2 separate regions of the Homo sapiens genome follow, and region 2 is linked to region 1. Evidence: fine-mapped expression QTL. A gene starts in region 1. The other region holds a variant in brackets. All regions are shown on one strand. Distances are from middle to middle.

Region 1 (9,149 bases):
GATTTTAAGACTGAACTCCTATATTCTCTTTCCCAGCATGCCAGTTAAAAACTTCAATCAAGGCCAGGTGCAGTTACTCATGCCTGTAATCCCAGCATTTTGGGAAGCCGAGGCGGGCAGATCACCTGCGGTCAGGCGTTCGAGACCAGCCTGGCCAATGTAGTGAAACCCCATCTCTACTATAAATACAAAAATTAGCCGGACGTGTTGGCACGCACCTGTAATACCAGCTACTTGGGAAGCTGAGGCAGGAGAACTGCTTGAACCCAGGAGGCGGAGGTTGCAGTGAGCCGAGATCATGCCATTGCACGCCAGCCTGAGCAACAAGAGTGAAACTCCGTCTCAAAAAAAAAAAAAAAAAAAAAAAACCAAAACTTCAATCAAGGGCGGGTGCAGAGGCTCACACTTGTAATCCCAGAACTTTGGGAGGCTGAGGCGGGCAGATCACTTGAGGTCAGGAGCCCAGCCAAAACATGGTTAAACCCCGTCTCTACAAAAAATACAAAAAAAAATTAGCCAGGCATGGTGGTGAGCACCTGTAATCCCAGCTCCTCAGGAGGCTGAGTACTACACCAAGTGTACTGTCTAGGAATGTAATACAGAATTCTCTTAGAAACACTAAAAAAGGCCAGGCAAAGTGGCTCATGACTTTAATCCCAGCAATTTGGATGGCTGAGGAAGGAGGATTACTCAAGCCCAGGACTTCCGGACTAGCATGGGCAACAAAGCAAGACCCCATCTCTACAAAAAATAAAAAAATTAGCTGGGTGTGGTGGCGCCTGGAGTCCCAGCTACTCAAGTGGCTGAGGCAGGAGAATCACTTGAACCCAGGAGGTTGAGGCTGCTGTGGGCCATGATGACGCCACTGCACTCCAGTCTGGGTGACAGAGAGAGACTGTCTCAAAAAAAGGAAAAAAGAAAACAAAAATGTAGTTACGTAACAGAAGCAAAAGTTGTGCTTTTGGGCATATTTTAAACTAAATACTACACAAAAGAAATTTGGACACAATCTTTTTTTTTTAAGTGAAAGCAAGTTTATTATGGAAGTAAAGAAACAAAGGAAGACTACTTCATAGGCAGAAGAGCCCCCCAATTTTTTCAAATAAAAAGTCCTTTCTGGTCAGGCTTGGTGACTCACGCTCGTAATCCCAGCACTTTGGGAGGCTGAGGTGGGTGAATTACCTGAGGTCAGGGGTTCGAGACCAGCCTGACCAATATGGTGAAACCCTGTCTCTACTAAAAATATAAAAATTAAGGCCGGGCGCAGTGGCTCATGCCTCTAATCCCAGCACTTTGAGAGGCTGAGGCAGATGGATCCCCTGAGTTCAGGAGTTCACGACCAGCCTGGCCAACATGGTAAAACCGTCTCTACTAAAAATGCAAAAAATTAGTCAGGTGTGGTGGCAGGCGCCTGTAATCGCAGCTACTCTGGAGGCTGATGCAGGAGAATCGCTTGAACCTGGGGCGGGGGGAGGTTGCAGTGAGCCGATATTGTACTACTGCACTCCAGCCTGGGCAACAAGAACAAAACTCCGTCTCAAAAAAAATAATAAAATAAAATAAAATAATTGGCCGAGCGTGGTGGCATATGCCTGTAGTCCCAGCTACTCCGGAGGCTGAGACAGGAGAATAGCTTGAACCCAGGAGACGGAGGTTGCAGTGAGCCAAGATCACACCCCTGCACTCCAGTCTGGGCGACAGAGCAAGATTCCGTCTCAAAAAAAAAAAAGCCTTTCATTTTACAGAGATGCTGTACCTTTGCAAGCCTAAAAGAGTAATCACTATCCGCCTCTTTAGTTGGAAATTTCATGAGGAATGGATCAAACCATCAAAAGCAGTAACTGCAAGCTGGGTGTATCTACTTTTTCTATCTTCAATCCAACATTTAATGGGTGCAAAAAAAAAGAAGCGTAAAGCCTCCCTTTCACGTGTTTAAGGACATCAGCTCTGAGACTAGTACTCAGAGTACCTTCTGTTACTCAGTTTCATCCTCTGCAAAATGGGCATCCTCAAATAATGTCTTACTTAGGATGTCATCAAGATTAAACAATTAAAAAAACATGCAAAACATGTTTATCTGTTTCCTCATTTACTATGTCTCTCCCTCTCCTAACTAAACTCAAAACCCCAGTTCGGTCTATCTTGTTTATTGTATTCCCAGGGCCTGGAATGGTATTTTTAAACTTACTATATGATTTAATAAATATTAAGTGAATAGAATGCAAAATGTCTGGTGCTCAAAAAAATGTTGGCTATTATAATTACAATAATGAAAAACAATTAAAATTTTATTGTTCTTATTCAGAGAAGCCACCCCTCCCCCAAGGATCTCACACATCAAGGAGGAACACTAGATAAATACTGGAATGGCTAAATGGAAGTAAGAATAACAATTAGATCATGGAGCAGGACTAACAGACAACAAAACAAAATCTTAACACGGCTAGAGCCTAATTTCGGACTTTTCCGAGTGCGGTGCACACTGGATCAGATTAATAAAGGACGATTACAATAATGACAGTTTTCACAATTGTGTGTGTGCCACGGTCGGTGTCAAGCGTTTTACTGGCCTCACAAAACCCAAGAACCCTGGGGGAGGGAGGGAACCCGCTCCACATCCCCATTTTGCAGATGGGGGAACTGAGGCACCGGGAGAGCCAAGGTCACTACCTAAATGGGGAAGCCTGGATGTGAACCCAGGTAGCCAACTACTGAGCCTGCGCTCAAACAGGCCCTCCGAGGGGCCATTCTCATCTCCTCCAACCCTCAACATCGGGCGGGTGTAGTATTTCCCCAGGAGCCGGACTTCGTGGCCCCAGCGCTGGGACAACAAAATGATTCTTGCCCGCCGGCAAGTCCCATGGACGCCGGCCCGGCCTAAGTTCCGAGGCCGCGGGCCCCACAATTTCCCTCACACCGTGAGCCCCGAGCTCTTCGGGCGGCGCAGGAAGCGACGGGGTGGCCTCAGGAGCCCGGGAAGGCCCGCCCCGCTGCGTGACCTTGGATCCGCCGCCCCGCTTCGGGCCTCAGTTTCCACTCCCGGCCTCGCGCCCGGGGCACTCGGAATCACCGCGCCTGCGGAGCCGCAGGCCCTCACACGCCCCCCTCGGCCGCCCGCATTCACGCCCCACTTACGCTGGAAGGCGGCCGCTCCAGGGACGCCTACCATCGCCGAGCGCCGCCGCCGCGCGCCGCCCGCCTCTACCCGCGACACGGGTCCCTCGCAGGCGCCGCCCGCCTCGACCCGCGGCCCGGGTCCCTCGCAGGCGTCGCCGCGAGATCTGCAGCCGCCGAGCTAACCAGACACCACCACCGCTGCTGTCGCCGTCGCCGCCGCCGCCGCCGCCGTTAGGCCGCGCCCCGCCCCGCCCCCGGCTGGCCCCGCCCCGCCCGCCGGGCACGCCCCCGCCGCGCGCTCTCGCCGCCAGGCCAACGCACGCGGAAGCCCGGCCCCAAGACCAGCTCCCATTAAGCACCGCCCCCTAACCTGACCCGCCCCTTCCGCGGGAACCGACCGCCGAATCCCGGCGCAGCCTGCTTCTCAGACCTGCCCCCTCGGCGTCACGCGCGCCCGTCACGCGCACGGCCCACTTTCTAGCTCCAGACTTCCCGGTGTAGCCAGGGCAGTGGCCCAGGCTCGGGGGCCGAGTGCTAGGGGGAGGGATTACAACGAGTGGCAACGTCTCACCTGAGTTCTCCAGGTACAGGCCTGATGGCTTTTGCGCATGCCTTTGAGCGAGCCCCCTGGCTCAAAGTGTTTTTGGCCTGAAGTATTCTAAATGCCTAAAATTTCATCATCGTAATTTTAATAACTGTTGGCCGGGCGTGGTGGCCCACGCCTGTAATCCTAGTACTTTGGGAGGCCAAAGGAGAGTCACTTGAGCTCAGGAGTTTGAGACTAGCGTCTCTATTAAAAAAATAAATAAATAAAAATAAAAAATAGACCAGGCACGGTGGCTCAGGCCTATAATCCTAACACTTTGGGAGGCCGAGGAGGGTGGATTACCTGAGGTCAGAACTTCGAGGCTAGTCTGGCCAATGTGGCGAAACGCTGTCTCTACTAAAAATACAAAACTTAGAGCCGGGCGCAGTGGCTCAAGCCTGTAATCCTAGCACTTTGGGAGGCCGAGGCGGGAGGATCACGAGGTCAGGAGTTTGAAGACCAGTCTGGCCTATAAGGTGAAACCCTATCTCTACTAAAAAAATAAATAAATAAAAATACAAAAATTAGCCTGGTGCGGTGGCGCGTGCCTTTAGTCCCAGCTACTCGGGAGGCTGGGGCAGGAGAATCACTTGAATCCGGGAGGGGGAGGTTGCAGTGAGCCGAGATCGGAGCCATTGCACTCCAGCCTGAGCAAAAAGAGCAAAACTCCGTATCAAAAAAACAAAACAAGGCCAGGAGCTGTGGCTCACCCCTGTAATCCCAGCACTTTGGGACGCCGAAGCTGGCAGATCACAGCTCAGGATTTGGAGACCAGCCTGACCAACGTGGTGAAACCCCGTCTGTACTAAAAATACAAAAATTAGCTGGACTTGGTTTCACAAGCCTGTAATCCCAGCTAATCAGGAGGCTGAGACAGGAGAATTGCTTGAACCCCGGAGGCGGAGGTTGCACCGAGCCAAGATCACGACACTGCACTCCCACCTGGGTGACAGAGCGAGACTCCCTCTCAAAAAACAAAACAAAACAAAACAAAAAAATTAGCTGGGCGCGGTGGCGGGTGTCCATAATCCCAGCTACTCGGGAGGCTGAGGCAGGAGAGTCGCTTGAACCTGGGAGGCAGAGGTTGCAGTGAACCGAAATCGCGCCACTACACTCTAGCCTGGGCAACAGAGGGAAGCTCCGTCTGAAAAGAAAAGAAAAGAATAAAGACTCTTGTTTCTCAGTATTATTTCAGATATCTCACACCAAGAATATAGAATGCATTTGTATTTTACTTGTGTATTGAAAACAAATTTTAAAAGACAGAATGTAGGCCGGCCGGGTACAGTGGTTTATGCCTCTAATCCCGGCACTTTGGGAGGCCAAGGCAGGTGGATCGCTTGAGTCCAGGAGTTCAAGACTAGCCTGGGTAACACGGGGAAACCGCGCCTGTACAAAAAATACAAAAATTAGCCAGACATGGTGTTGCACACACGCTTGTAGTCTCAGCTACACAGAAGGCTGCGGTGGGAGGATCATATGAGCCAGGGAGTCAGAGGTTTCAGTTACCCCAGATCAGACCAATGTACTCTGGCCTGATCTAACAGATCAGGCGTGAGTAACAGAGTGAGACCCTGTCTCAAAAAAAGAAAAAAAAATGTAGAAATAAGAACATATGTGCATATACCAGCTGGGTATAGTGGTTCACACCTGTAATCCTAGCACTTTGGGAGGCTGAAGTGGGCAGATCACAAAAGGTCAGGAGTTCGAGACCAGCCTGGCCAACATGGTGAAAACCTGTCTCTACTAAAAATACAAAAGTTAGCCAGGAGTGGTGGCGTGTGCCTGTAGTCTCAGCTACTCAGGAGGCTGAGGCAGGAGGATGGCTTGAACTTGGGAGGTGGCAGTTGCAGTGAGCCAAGATCATGCCACTGCACTCCAGCCTGGGCCACAAAGCAAGACTCTGTCTCAAAACAAAACAAAAAAAAAAAAAAGAGAGAGAAGAAAAGAACATATGTGGCCAGGCATGGTGGCTCATGCCTGTAATCCCAGCACTTTGGGAGACTGAGGCAGACAGATCACCTGAGGTTGGGAGTTCGAGACCAGCCTGACCAACATGGAGGAACCCTGTCTCTAGTAAAAATACACAATTTGCTGGGCACATGCCTGTAACACCAGCTACTCAGGAGGCTGAGGCAGGAGAATCACTTAAACCCGGGAGGCAGAGGTTGCAGTGAGCCGAGATTGCGCCATTGCACTTCAGCCTGGGCAACAAGAGCGAAACTTCATCTCAAAAAAAAGAAAAGAACATGCATGTATATATATACTCTTTAAAGTGCCATGAGCACTGATGAAGAAAGCCCTCCCTAGAACGTTTTTGGAAAACACAATAAAAGGTACCAATGTACTCAGAGAGTCCCAGGAAGGGTCTCTAAACCACAACTAAAAGGCTATGAGGAATTCAGATGGGGTTAACAGCCCAGCTGAAATTTCACTTCCTTTGTGAAAATCTCTCCAATGCTCCTATCAAAAAATAATTTTCAAGACTGGGCAATAAAGTGAGACCTCCTTTCTACAAAAAATAAAAAAATTAGCAAGGCATGGTGGTGCACGCCTGTAGTCCCAGCTACTCAGGAGGCTGAGGCAGGAGGATTGGCTTGAGCCCAGGAGGTCAAGGCTGCAGTGAGCTGTGATCCGACCACTGCACTCCAGCATGGGTGACAGAGCAAGACCGTGCCTCAAAAAAAGAGTGATAATAATTTGGCCGGATGCGGTGGCTCATGCCTGCAATCTCAGCACTTTGGAAGGCTGAGGCAGGTGGATCACCTGAGGTCAGGAGTTTGAGACCAGCCTGGCCAACATGGTGAAACCCCATCTCTACTAAAAATACAAAAATTAGCTCGCATTGTGGCGGGCACCTGTAATCCCAGCTACTTGGGAGGCTGAGGCAGGAGAATCGCTTGAACCAGGAGACTGAGGTTATGGTAAGTCGAGATCATGCCACTGCACTCCAGTCTAGCGATAGAGTGAGACTCTGTCTCAAAAATAATTACTATTGACCGGGTGCGGTGGCTCACGCCTGTAATCCCAGCACTTTGGGAAGCCAAGGCTGGCGGATCACGAGGTCAGGAGATCGAGACCATCCTGGCTAACACAGTGAAACCCCATCCCTACTAAAAATACAAAAAAAAAAAATTAGCTGGGTGTGGTGGCGGGCGCCTGTAGTCCCAGCTACTTGGAAGGCTGAGGCAGGAGAATGGCGTGAACCTGGGAGGTGGAGCTTGCAGTGAGCTGAGATCGCGCCACCGCACTCCATCCTGGGCGACAGAGCGAGACTCCATCTCAGAAAAAACAACAACAACAACAACAAAAAAAAAACAAAGTGCTGGGATTACAGTCGTGAACCATGGCACCCACCCCGACCAGCTAATTATTATTATTAGTAGTAGTAGTAGTAGTAGAGGTGGTGTCTCTTTGTGTTGCCCAGGCTGGTCTTAAACTCCTAGAGCTCAAGCAATCCTCCAGCCTGGGCCTCTCAAAGTGCTAGAATTGTAAGCACGCGCTACCACACCCAACCTTCAAACTTTTTAAGATTCAAGTAAGAGAGACCGGGCCCAGTGGCTCACGCCTGTAATCCCAGCACTTTGGGAGGCTGAGGCGGGCTGATGATGAGGTCAGGAATTTGAGACCAGCCTGGCCAGCATGATGAAACCTCGTCTCTACTAAAAATACAAAAATTAGCCAGGCGTGGTGGCATGCACCTGTAATCCCAGCTACTCAGGAGGCTGAAAAATGAGAATCGTGCCAGGCATGGTGGCTCACGCCTGTAATCCCAGCACTTTGGGAGGCCGAGGTGGGTGGATTACCTGAGTTCAGGAGTTTGAGACCAGCCTGACCAACATGGAGAAACCCCGTCTCTACTAAAAATACAAAATTAGCCGGACGTGGTGACTCATGCCTGTAATTCCAGCTACTCAGGAGGCTGAGGCAGAAGAATCGCTTGAACCTGGGAGTTGGAGGTTGCGGTGAGCCGAGATCGCGCCACTGCACTCCAGCCTGGGCAACAACAGCAAAATTCCATCTCAAAAAAAAAAAAAAAGAACAAGAATCGCTTGAACCCGGGAGGCGGAGGTTGCAGTGAGCTGAGATTGTGCACTCCAGCCTGGGTGACAGAGTGAGACTCCATTTCAAAAAAAAAAAAAGAACTATTATGAAGAATTTTATGCCCTCAAGTTTGACATTTTAGATAAAATCAATAATTTCCTTGAAAGATACAAACTACTGGCCGGGCACGGTGGCTCACGCCTGTAATCCCAGCACTTTGGGAGGCCGAGGCGGGCAGATCACGAGGTCAGGAGATCGAGACCATCCTGGCTAACACAGTGAAACCCCGTCTCTACTAAAAATACAAAAAAAATTAGCCAGGCGTGGTGTCGGCCGTCTGTAGTCCCAGCTACTCCGGAGGCTGAGGCAGGAGAATGGCGTGAACCTGGGAGACAGAGCTTGCAGTAAGCCAAGATCGTGCCACTGCACTCCAGCCTGGAGAACAGAGCGAGACTCCGTCTCAAAAAAAAAAAAAGAAAAAAAAAGAAAGATGCCAACTACTAAAGCTTACTGAATAAGGTGATCATCTGAATATCCTATATATATTAAGAATATTAGGCCAGGTGCGGTGGTTCACACCTGTAATCCCAGCACTTTGGGAGGCCAAGGTGGGAGGATTCCTTAAACCTAGGAATTCAAGATCAGACTGGGCAACATAATGAGACCCTGTTTCTACAAAAACTAAATTTTAAATGTTAGCAGGCATGCTGGCACAAGACCATGGTCCTAGCTACTTAGTAGGTTGAGGTAGAAAGATCACTTGAACCTGAGAAGTCAAGGCTGCAGTGAGCCGAGATCACATCACTGCACTCCAGCCTGGGCAACAGAGCAAGACTCTGTCTCAGAAAAAAAATTACATTTATGGTTAGGCCAAGCATGGCAGCTCATACCTGTAATCCCAGCATTTTGGGAGGCCTAGGCAGGTGGATTGCTTGAGCCCAGGAGTTCAAGACCAGGCTGGGTAACATGGCAAAACTCCAGCTCTACAAAAAATACAAACATTTGCCATTCATAGTGCTGCATCTCTGTAGTCCTAGCTACTTGGGAGGCTGAGGTGGTAGGATCACGATGTCAGGAGATTGAGACCATCCTGGCCAACATGGTGAAACCCCGTCTCTACTAAAAATACAAAAATTGGCCGGGCATGGTGGCTTACACCTGTAATCCCAGCACTTTGGGAGGTCGAGACAGGCAGATCACCTGAGGTCAGGAGCTGGAGACCAGCCTGGCCAACATGGTGAAACCCCGTCTCTACTAAAGATACAAAAAAAATTAGCTGGACATGGTGGCAGGCGCCTGTAATCCCAGTTACTCGGGAGGCTGAGGCAGGAGAATCACTTGAACCCAGAGGCAGAAGTTGCAGTGAGCCAAGATCGTTCCATTGCACTCCAGCCTGGGGGAC
Region 2 (9,320 bases), 200 kb before region 1:
TTGACCAAGATTTCTGATTACACCCACCTGATTTAGAAGCCCATGCTATCACCTCTACACCACTCTGCTTCTTGGAAAGAACCAAGGGAAAGAGGTCTCCAGGCACAGGATTGTGGGCCCAACAGATTGCATCCCCTCGAACTCCTCTAGTTTGGTTGGTGAAGGTGGTGATGGAAATAAGCACCTATGAACCAAGCCACTATCCACCATAATACCCTTTAGAAACTACACTTTATAATCTTGACAGCCCTGAGCCTGGCTTTTGGGGTATTTACAGAGGGTGGCAAGGGCAGGTCCTGGGTTTTGCAGTGGGACAAGTGAAGTTCTCATCTCAGTTCTGCTGTGTGACCTTGAGCTATGAATGCCCCTCTCTGAGCCTCTTCCTTCCTGCACCATGTGGATAAACAAGCTTACTTACGGGATTATGGGGTTGAAAGGAGATCATCAATGGAAGTGGCTGCCCAGTGACTGTGGATTTTTTGGAAACTGTTTTTTGAAAACTGTTGACATTGAGAACAGCCTTATCAGGAGCTGCCAGGCTTAGGGCCAAGGGGCCTCATCTATCAGGCTTTTCTGCTTTCAAGTAGGTATTAATAGGTACAGAAGGCCCTTATCTCTTCCTCAGTTTCATGCTAGGAATGCTGGTCTTCACTCCTTTCTGCTTCAGCAGGACCTGAAGGATTGTGGGACGGAGGGCGCCTACTTCTACCTGGATGTGTACTTGAATACTCTGGGGCGGGCAGGACTTTGGAAAACCCCCAACCTCAGCCTCACCAAGCCTGAAAAATAACCTTTTCATCTACTTGGTAAACTCAGGCCCTTTTGGCCTCAAATTTCCTCATCATAAAATGGAGCAATAATAATAGACATCTCTCTTTGCCAGCCACCACAGTTAAACCAGCACAGTGCTTGGTATATAATAGGTGCTTAATAAGTGTTTGTTGAATGACTTGGGTTTGAGAGGGCTTCACACAAATGAATGTTAGTGTTACTGGGACCCTGTGGGAAGGTGCAGGGAAAGGACACTCTTTCCATCTGGAATGGGAATGTGCTGGTTTCTCTTGCTCTCTGCCAGCACCTGCGTTGGTTGTTTAGAATGGGACCTACCCCTCAGCTTCTTTATGGAGAGGGGATGGGGAAGGGGGACAGGCAGACCTCAGGGCTGGGAATGCAGTGTAGGCCCAATTTGGTCACTGGTTGGCTTCACAGTTACTTTCTCCTGAAAGGGCCTCAGTTTTCCTATCCATACAGCAAGAGGCTTATGTGGTCTCTGTGGTCCCTTCTAGCTATGATACATTCTAGGATTTGCAATGAGTAATTTCAGAAACTACTCATTGGAGGGGAAAACAACTCCTGATTTCCTAAACCACCTCATAGTTTGTAAAACACTTTCCAATTCCTTATGCTTTTCATTCTCCTGGCAACCCTGGAAGGGGCCAGGGCAAGGTCTGTGTGCCCATTTGAAACTAAGGGTGAGAAGCATCCTCAGGAGCTGTGATTTGAGGCTGCACCACTCATTTTGATTATGCTGGTACACCAGTTTGCTTTCAAATGTGAGTATGCATAAAAATAACCTGGAAGCTTGGTGAGGTGGCAGTCACCTGGAGTACCAGCTATGCTGGAGGCTGAGGCGGGAGGATCTCTTGAGCCCAGGGGTTTGAGACTACCCTGGGCAACATAGTGAGACCTCGTCTATATAAAATAAATAGGAAAAAAAAAATAAGATACTGGCTTTTCTAATTCCCTAAGTGTCAAAAAAAAAAAAAGAAAAAGAATAACAAATATCACCTGGAAAGGGGACATGGCATTGTTAAAATGCAGATTCTTGGGCACCTAGAGATTTTAAATTGGCAGGGCCAGGGTGGGCCCAAAATTAGCAAGTGACCACGTGGTTCTGAAGCCAGTGGCCTAAGGACCACCCTTGCAGAACCGTGGTCTCCTTGTCACAGTCTAGGCAGCCTCTGGCTTAGCCTCTGTTTCTTTCATAACCTTTCTCAGCGCCTGCTCTGGGCCAGACCAGTGTTGGGAGGAGTCGCTACTGAGCTCCTAGATTGGCAGGGGAGGCAGATGGAGAAAAGGAGTGTGTGTGGTCAGCATTGGAGCAGAGGCAGCAGTGGGCAATAGAGGAAGTGAGTAAATCCTTGGGAGGGCTCCCTAGAAGTGATGTGTTTTCTTTTTTTGTTTTAGAGACAGGATCTCGCTCTGTCGCCCAGGCTGGTGTGCAGTGGCATGATCATAGCTCACTGCAGCCTCGACTTCTCGGGCTCAAGCAATCCTCCCACCTCAGCCTCCCAAGTAGCTGGGACTACGGGCACACGCCACCATGCCTGGCTAATTTTTGTATTTTTTGTAGAGATGGGTCTTCACCATGTTGATCAGGCTGGTCTCGAACTCCTGGGCTCATGCGATCCACCCCGCCAGCTGATTACAGGGATTCCGGTGGTGAGCCACCGCGCCCAGACGCCACTTCATCGTATTGTAAACGTCTGTTACCTTTCTGTTCCCCTGTCTACTGGACTGTGAGCTCCTTAGGGCCACGAATTGAGGATGGGGCACAGAGCAAGCTCTCCAAACGTTTGTTGAATGAGTGAGGGAATGAATGAGTTCAAGCAGATGCTATACGTTGGCTGTTGGAGATTTTGGCTAAAATGGGACTTGCAGGAAAGCCCGACGTCCCCCTCGCCATTTCCAGGCACCGCTCTTCAGCTTGGGCTCTGGGTGAGCGGGATAGGGCTGGGTGCAGGATTAGGATAATGTCATGGGTGAGGCAAGTTGAGGATGGAAGAGGTGGCTGATGGCTGGGCTGTGGAACTGATGATCCTGAAAAGAAGAGGGGACAGTCTCTGGAAATCTAAGCTGAGGCTGTTGGGGGCTACAGGTTGAGGGTCACGTGCAGAAGAGAGGCTCTGTTCTGAACCTGCACTATAGAAAGGTCAGTGGGATGCGGGAGCGTCGGGGCGGGGCGGGGCCTATGTTCCGGTGTCCCCACGCCTCCAGCAGGGGACGCCCGGGCTGGGGGCGGGGAGTCACACCGCGCCTGGTACCATCCGGACAAAGCCTGCGCGCGCCCCGCCCCGCCATTGGCCGTACCGCCCCGCGCCGCCGCCCCATCCCGCCCCTCGCCGCCGGGTCCGGCGCGTTAAAGCCAATAGGAACCGCCGCCGTTGTTCCCGTCACGGCCGGGGCAGCCAATTGTGGCGGCGCTCGGCGGCTCGTGGCTCTTTCGCGGCAAAAAGGATTTGGCGCGTAAAAGTGGCCGGGACTTTGCAGGCAGCGGCGGCCGGGGGCGGAGCGGGATCGAGCCCTCGCCGAGGCCTGCCGCCATGGGCCCGCGCCGCCGCCGCCGCCTGTCACCCGGGCCGCGCGGGCCGTGAGCGTCATGGCCTTGGCCGGGGCCCCTGCGGGCGGCCCATGCGCGCCGGCGCTGGAGGCCCTGCTCGGGGCCGGCGCGCTGCGGCTGCTCGACTCCTCGCAGATCGTCATCATCTCCGCCGCGCAGGACGCCAGCGCCCCGCCGGCTCCCACCGGCCCCGCGGCGCCCGCCGCCGGCCCCTGCGACCCTGACCTGCTGCTCTTCGCCACACCGCAGGCGCCCCGGCCCACACCCAGTGCGCCGCGGCCCGCGCTCGGCCGCCCGCCGGTACGGACCCCAGGGACGCCGCGCCGACAGCGCCGCCTGTGCCCCCCGCGCAGACCCGGGAGGGCGCCGTGTTTGGCCTGGAGGCGGCAGGGGGCGGGGGAGGGGTTGACTGAGGCGCCCAGGCTGGGCGGTGCAGAGCCGGGGTTGGGCCTCCGGGCCCCGCCCTGGGGTGCGGGGTGACCTCGGGCCGGTCCCTGTTTGCTGCTCTGTGCTCTGCGCCTCAGCTTCCTCACCGGAGCCTCCCCAGCGTCGGACTCAGTGATAATAATAGCCCACGTGTATTCAACTGGCGTTTACTGCATGCCAGGCCTTTGGGCGACTTCAAGCCAGCTAAAACTCACAACCCCGCTGTGAGCTGTGTTGTCACTGTGCCCATCTGACGGAGGAGGAACTGAGGCCCAGAGAGGGAAAGTGACTTGCCCCTGGTCACACGGCTGCAGGTGGTGGGGCTGGGATTTGAACTGAGGCCTGCTGGCTTCAGCTCAGAATTTGCATCTCGGTAGTGAGCACAGCTGCTAGGGGAAGTGAAGGCGGGGCGGAGGAAAGTCCTGGGGCCTAACCGTTGGTGAGCCATTGAGGAGACCCTCCTTCCTGCCTCGATGCTGACTGCCAGGTGCAGGCCTGGCCGGCCAGGCCTCTGGGGACAGCCCTCCTGGCTGGGAGGCCTTCTCTGCAGGGGCGGGGCAGCTGGACCAGCTGCTGATCCCCTCCCTCTGCCTGTCCTTCCATCTGCCACCCTCCACCCTCCCAGGCCCTGGTTGCCATGGAACCTCATTAATCAGGCAGGCCGACCCCTGAGTCTCTGTAGAAGGACTAGGTGGGCTGGGCCTCTGGGAGCTGGAGAGGAGGCCCCCAGTGCCAGGAGAGAAAATGTCTCAGGGAGATCCTTTAATAAAGCCCTCCCTGATCGCTGAGCTCAAGACGAATTCAGACTGGAGGGCCCAGAAGAGGCGGCTGAATTCCAGTGGGAGAAGGGATTGGAGGCGTAGAAGCCTGGAGCTGGGAACTGTGGGGCACAGGGCAGGGTGTGGAGACCAGTTTGACTGGCGCAGCCTATGGGTGAAGGTGGGGCTCTGGTGTGCAGGCGGGGTCTGGCCAGGCAGGATGGGGTCTCAGCAGGGAACTTGGAGCAAGTGGGAGGGGTGAGGCAGGACTCAGGACAAGGAGGTAGAAGCTGCCTAACTGCTGATGGGGGTGTGGGTGGCAGCTGGTCCCTGAGGCATCCTGAGGAGGCTCCCCCAACCCCCTTGGCCCCATGCCCAGTGCTGCCTTCCGGAATCACCACAATGCTAATAATAATAACAATAGCAGCCACCATTGTTTTGAGGATGTCTTGTGTGCCAGGCTCTGTGCCAAGCGCTTTACTTAATTAACTCATTTAACCCCATCAGCAGCAGTCCCTTTTTACAGATTGGGAAGCTGAGGCCTAGAGATGTTAGAATCTTCCCATGTCATTCTGCTCTTGAGTGGGGAGAGCAGTCTGCGTTTCCTCTGAGGTTGACCTCTGGGATGCCTTGCTTTCTGGGGATGCTGATACAGGTTGAAGAAAGGGCAAGAAGGGCTTTTAGGGGCCCTCCCTCTTAATGAGTGGGTGGGAGGGGGTTGTACCAGGGGTGGGCCAGGTGGCCTGTCTCCTGTACTCCAGGGGCCTGTTCCTGTGGGTACCACTTGGGACCTGGGCAAGCATCTTCCATTCAGCTGTGTGACAAGCATTATAGAAGGCTCAGGTCTGCGGAAATCTAACAACCTGAGGGTCTTGTCCTCAAAGATCTGAACAGGATTATGGGTTCTAGGATCAAAGGGAGGGACAGGGGCAAAGAAAAATGCCCTCCACTCCACCTGTCAGGGGCAGGCTCATTGGCCTGGGCATTCCATTCATTCAACAGTTGTTGAGTTAGTGAATGCCCAGGAGGCACTAGGCCCAGAGACAAGGAGCCCTGGCCCCCAGTGTACT[T/G]AAGGGCCAGGAGGCTGGCACCATTCTGGAACTGAAGTCCAGAAAGTCCACAGGTTTGGCTTTTGGCCTCTCTGCACTGGCATTTGTCTGGCACAGTCCTTGAAATAAGCTACAGGCTTAGCTTCTATACCAGCAGGCATTCTGTATACAAGGCTCTGCAATTCAGCCATTCCTCTTGGCCCTGCCTGTCCACTTCCACAAACTCAAGTATTATAACTATAATACATGTTTAATGTAGAAAACTTAACTTTTTTATTTATTTATTTATTTTTTTTTTGGAGACAGGGTCTCATTCTGTTACCCAGGCTGGAGTGCAGTGGCGTGATTGCGGCTCACTGCAACCTCTGCCTCCCAAGTTCAAGCTATTCTGTGCCTCAGCCTCCCGAGTAGCTGGGATTACAGGCGTGTACCACCATGCCCAGCCAATTTTTGTATTTTTAGTAGAGAGAGGGTCTTGCCATGTTGCCCAGGCTGGTCTTGAACTCCTGAGTTCAGACAATCTGACTGTCTCAGCCTCTCAAAGTGCTGGGATTACAGGTGTGAGTCACCATGCCCAGCTGAAAACTTAACTCTTAACTCTTTTTTTTTTTTTTTTTTTTGAGATGAAGTCTCGCTCTGTCACCTAGGTTGGAGTACAGTGGCGCCATCTCGGCTCACCGCAACCTCTACCTCCTGGGTTCAAGCGATTCTTCTGCCTCAGCCTCCCGAGTAGCTGGGACTACAGACGTGCACCACCATACCCGGCTAATTTTTGTATTTTTGGTAGAGATGAGGTTTCACCATATTGGTCAGGCTGGTCTTGAACTCCTGACCTCAAGTGATCTGCCCGCCTCGGCCTCCCAAAGTGCCAGGATTACAGGCGTGAGCCACTGCGCCTGGCCAAAAACTTAACTCTTAAGAAACTAGAAAGTTGACGGCAGGATCCCAGCCCTATTCATTTTTTTCCTTTTTTTCCCTAAGGCTATTTTTGTTTGTGGTGGTTGTGACAGTTTTTGTTTTTTAAAGTTTTAAAAATTGTAGTTTTTCCTGTATCATTCACACCATTCAGATATGGCACTGGTCTCCCACAGTCCTTCCAGAGGCTGCCCCGAAATGTATTCTATAATAATATAAACTGAACCAGAGAAAAGTTTCATGAGCTTTTTAATCCAAAAGGGATCATATAAATATATCGCCCTGTGACAGTGTTTTGCTTGTCTGTATGTGTGAGGGGATTCTTGTCAACCTGCCTCGGTCCTTGACAGCTGCGTGGTGTTCAAGGGGCTAAACAAAGCACAGCTTTCGTGACCCCCTTCATGGATGGGTGTTCGAGTCATCCAGATTTTTTCAGCAGTGAATGTCTTCACCCCTGCGTTTCGGGGCCCCTCTGCCAGTGTTTATCTAGGGAGAAGTGGCAGAAATGGCATCCACTCAAGCCTTTGTTTTAGGGCGTGGCACTGACCTGCCTTCAGGGGTGGACAAGGGTGGGGATCCCAGGGAGAAGGCAAGGGGTGCAGATGGCAGAAGCATGCTAGGGTTTGGGCCCCAGGGGCGAGTATGGAGGGGGATACATTCTGGCTGGGTTCTGGGGAGGTGGGGCACGTGGCGGGTATGAGTGTGGGCTCTGTACCAGCCAACTAGGGTGCAAGTCCTGGGTCCACCTCTCACTGTGTGGCCTCTCTCAGGTGGAGGCCATCATAGCACCTGCCAAAAGGTGGCCGGAGGGTTGCAGGGGAAGCAGTTGAGTACACAGTGCTTAGAGCACAACAGCTCTTCTTTCCCCTGGGTGCCTTCAAAAGTCAGTGAATGTGCACAAGAGGGAGTGGTTCATCAGCATGGGGGGGGTTCATTCAGCAAACATTTGTTGATGCCAGGCTCCATGGCAGACACTATAGATTCTCAAGTGATTCAGACACCTCTGAGGGTGAGATAGATACATCTGCAGAAATGTGTAGGGAGAGACAGAATGTGGCAAAAGGTTGGGTTTGAGGCAGTTCAGAGGGAGAAGAGGTGACACCTCCTAGCTGATGCGTAAGGTTTCTGCCCACAGAGGTAGAGGGAGCAGGCGTGAAGTGGGGAGGGTGGGAGGGATGCAAGGGCAGTCTAGATTTCTGGGAAAACGTGACTCGGGTTCCTCTAGAGAAGCAGTGGCAGATGAGAGTACAAAGGCAATGGGGAGCTGGAGGAAGGCCTTAAGCAGGGGCGGCGGCATGGTAAGGTTTGTAGGAGGACTGGCTGCAGCAGAGGCAGGGAGACCAGTGTGGAGTCTGCTCAGCAGCCCACTGGGAAGGTGGTGATCGCCGTGGTGATGAGCAGTTCTTGGTAGCTGCATGTGAGGAGGGTGACAGGTCAGGAACTCTAGCTCAGGAAACCCTGTGGATGGTGGAGGGGAAGATCAGTCTGGTTTTGGTCCGGGTACTTTTGAGCAGCCTGTGAGACCTCCAGGACAGTCCCAATCCTGGAGTGTCTGAACTAAGCCAGAGTGCTTAGAGCTTGGGTTCTTCCTCAGACCGTCTTGGGTACAAATCCTGACTCTACCACTTCCTGGGCCTCCCTGGGCTTTAGTTGCCTTATCTGGAAAATGGGGCCATTTTTATACAGCCAGTCCGTTGAATGGAATGAACTAATGGATGCAAGGAACTTGATGAGCACCAGCTGCTACCATGCGTATAGATTAGTCAAAAACCAGAGAGAAGGTGATTTAGCCAAGGGACCTATGTAATCAGTGGCTTAGCTGGGCATGGTGGCTGACTAGTCCCAGCACGACTACAGTGAAGGCTGAGATGGGAGAATTGCTTGAGCCTAGGAGTTTGAGACCAGTCTGGGCAACATAGGGAGACCCCATCTCTACGAGAAATAGAAAAGTTAGCTGGTCTTGGAGGGATGCGCCTGTGGTCCCAGCTGTTTGGAAGGCTGAGGTGGGAGGATTGCTTGAGCCCAGGAAGTCTAGGCTGCAGAGAGTTGTGATCATACCACTGCACTCCAGCATAGTCAACAGAGCGATACCCTGTCTAAAAAAGAAAAAAAAATAGTGCCTTAAAACAACAAACATTTATTATATAGTTTTTGTGGGTCAGGAATTCAGGGAAGACTTATCCAGCTCTGGCTTGGGGTCTCTGGAGATTCAGCCAGTGTTTGGGTTCTGGCTGCTAACAGAAGTTGTGACTAAGTGTTGCTGTTGGGAGGAGGCCATGGTTTCTTGCCCATCATTAGGGCTACTTGAGTGCCCATATGATATGGCAGAGTAAGTGACCCAATACAGAGCAAGGAGGAAGCTCCAGCGCCTCTGACCCAGTCTCAAAAGTGACAGGCCATCCCTTCCACCACATTCCATTCATTCATCCCCAGAAGCAAGTTACCAGGTCTGGCTCATAAGGGGAGAATTAGGCTATATCTTTTGAAGGAGAAGGATCAGAAAGTTTGCGGATGTGTTTTAAATCCACCGCTAGACCCCAGAGAAGTGGTGAAAATGGAATGTCCTGTGTGGTAGGACTGTGACTCTCAGGCTATGTCCCCTCTGATCTCCCTCAGTCACACACTCAGGCATCCTGCTAGAGAAACTGAGGCGAGGGTAGCCCAGAGGCACCCAGCCTTAAGCCAGGTCTCTTCTGGCCTCACTCCTGGTTACTGGGCATCCTCCCGTTTTCGCCACAGGTGAAGCGGAGGCTGGACCTGGAAACTGACCATCAGTACCTGGCCGAGAGCAGTGGGCCAGCTCGGGGCAGAGGCCGCCATCCAGGAAAAGGT

What was found. PIP is the estimated chance that this variant, and not a neighbour inherited with it, causes the effect.
Region 2: its variant is fine-mapped to the expression of CBFA2T2 in tibial nerve (GTEx, PIP 0.98).

The regions. Positions count from the first base shown.
Region 1 is chr20:33,484,288-33,493,436 of GRCh38, reverse strand. It overlaps CBFA2T2 (CBFA2/RUNX1 partner transcriptional co-repressor 2), which reads right to left and starts at 3,341. Exons shown (of 11, transcript NM_001032999.3): 1 at 3,136-3,341. The coding sequence starts at 3,169. RefSeq lists silencers at 3,022-3,301, 3,312-3,531 and an enhancer at 3,626-4,174.
Region 2 is chr20:33,680,324-33,689,643 of GRCh38, reverse strand. It overlaps E2F1 (E2F transcription factor 1), which reads left to right and starts at 3,259. Exons shown (of 7, transcript NM_005225.3): 1 at 3,259-3,640; 2 at 9,228-9,318. The coding sequence starts at 3,380. RefSeq lists silencers at 2,920-3,419, 3,530-3,889 and an enhancer at 8,891-9,320. The variant T/G (reference allele first, on the strand shown) is at 5,595.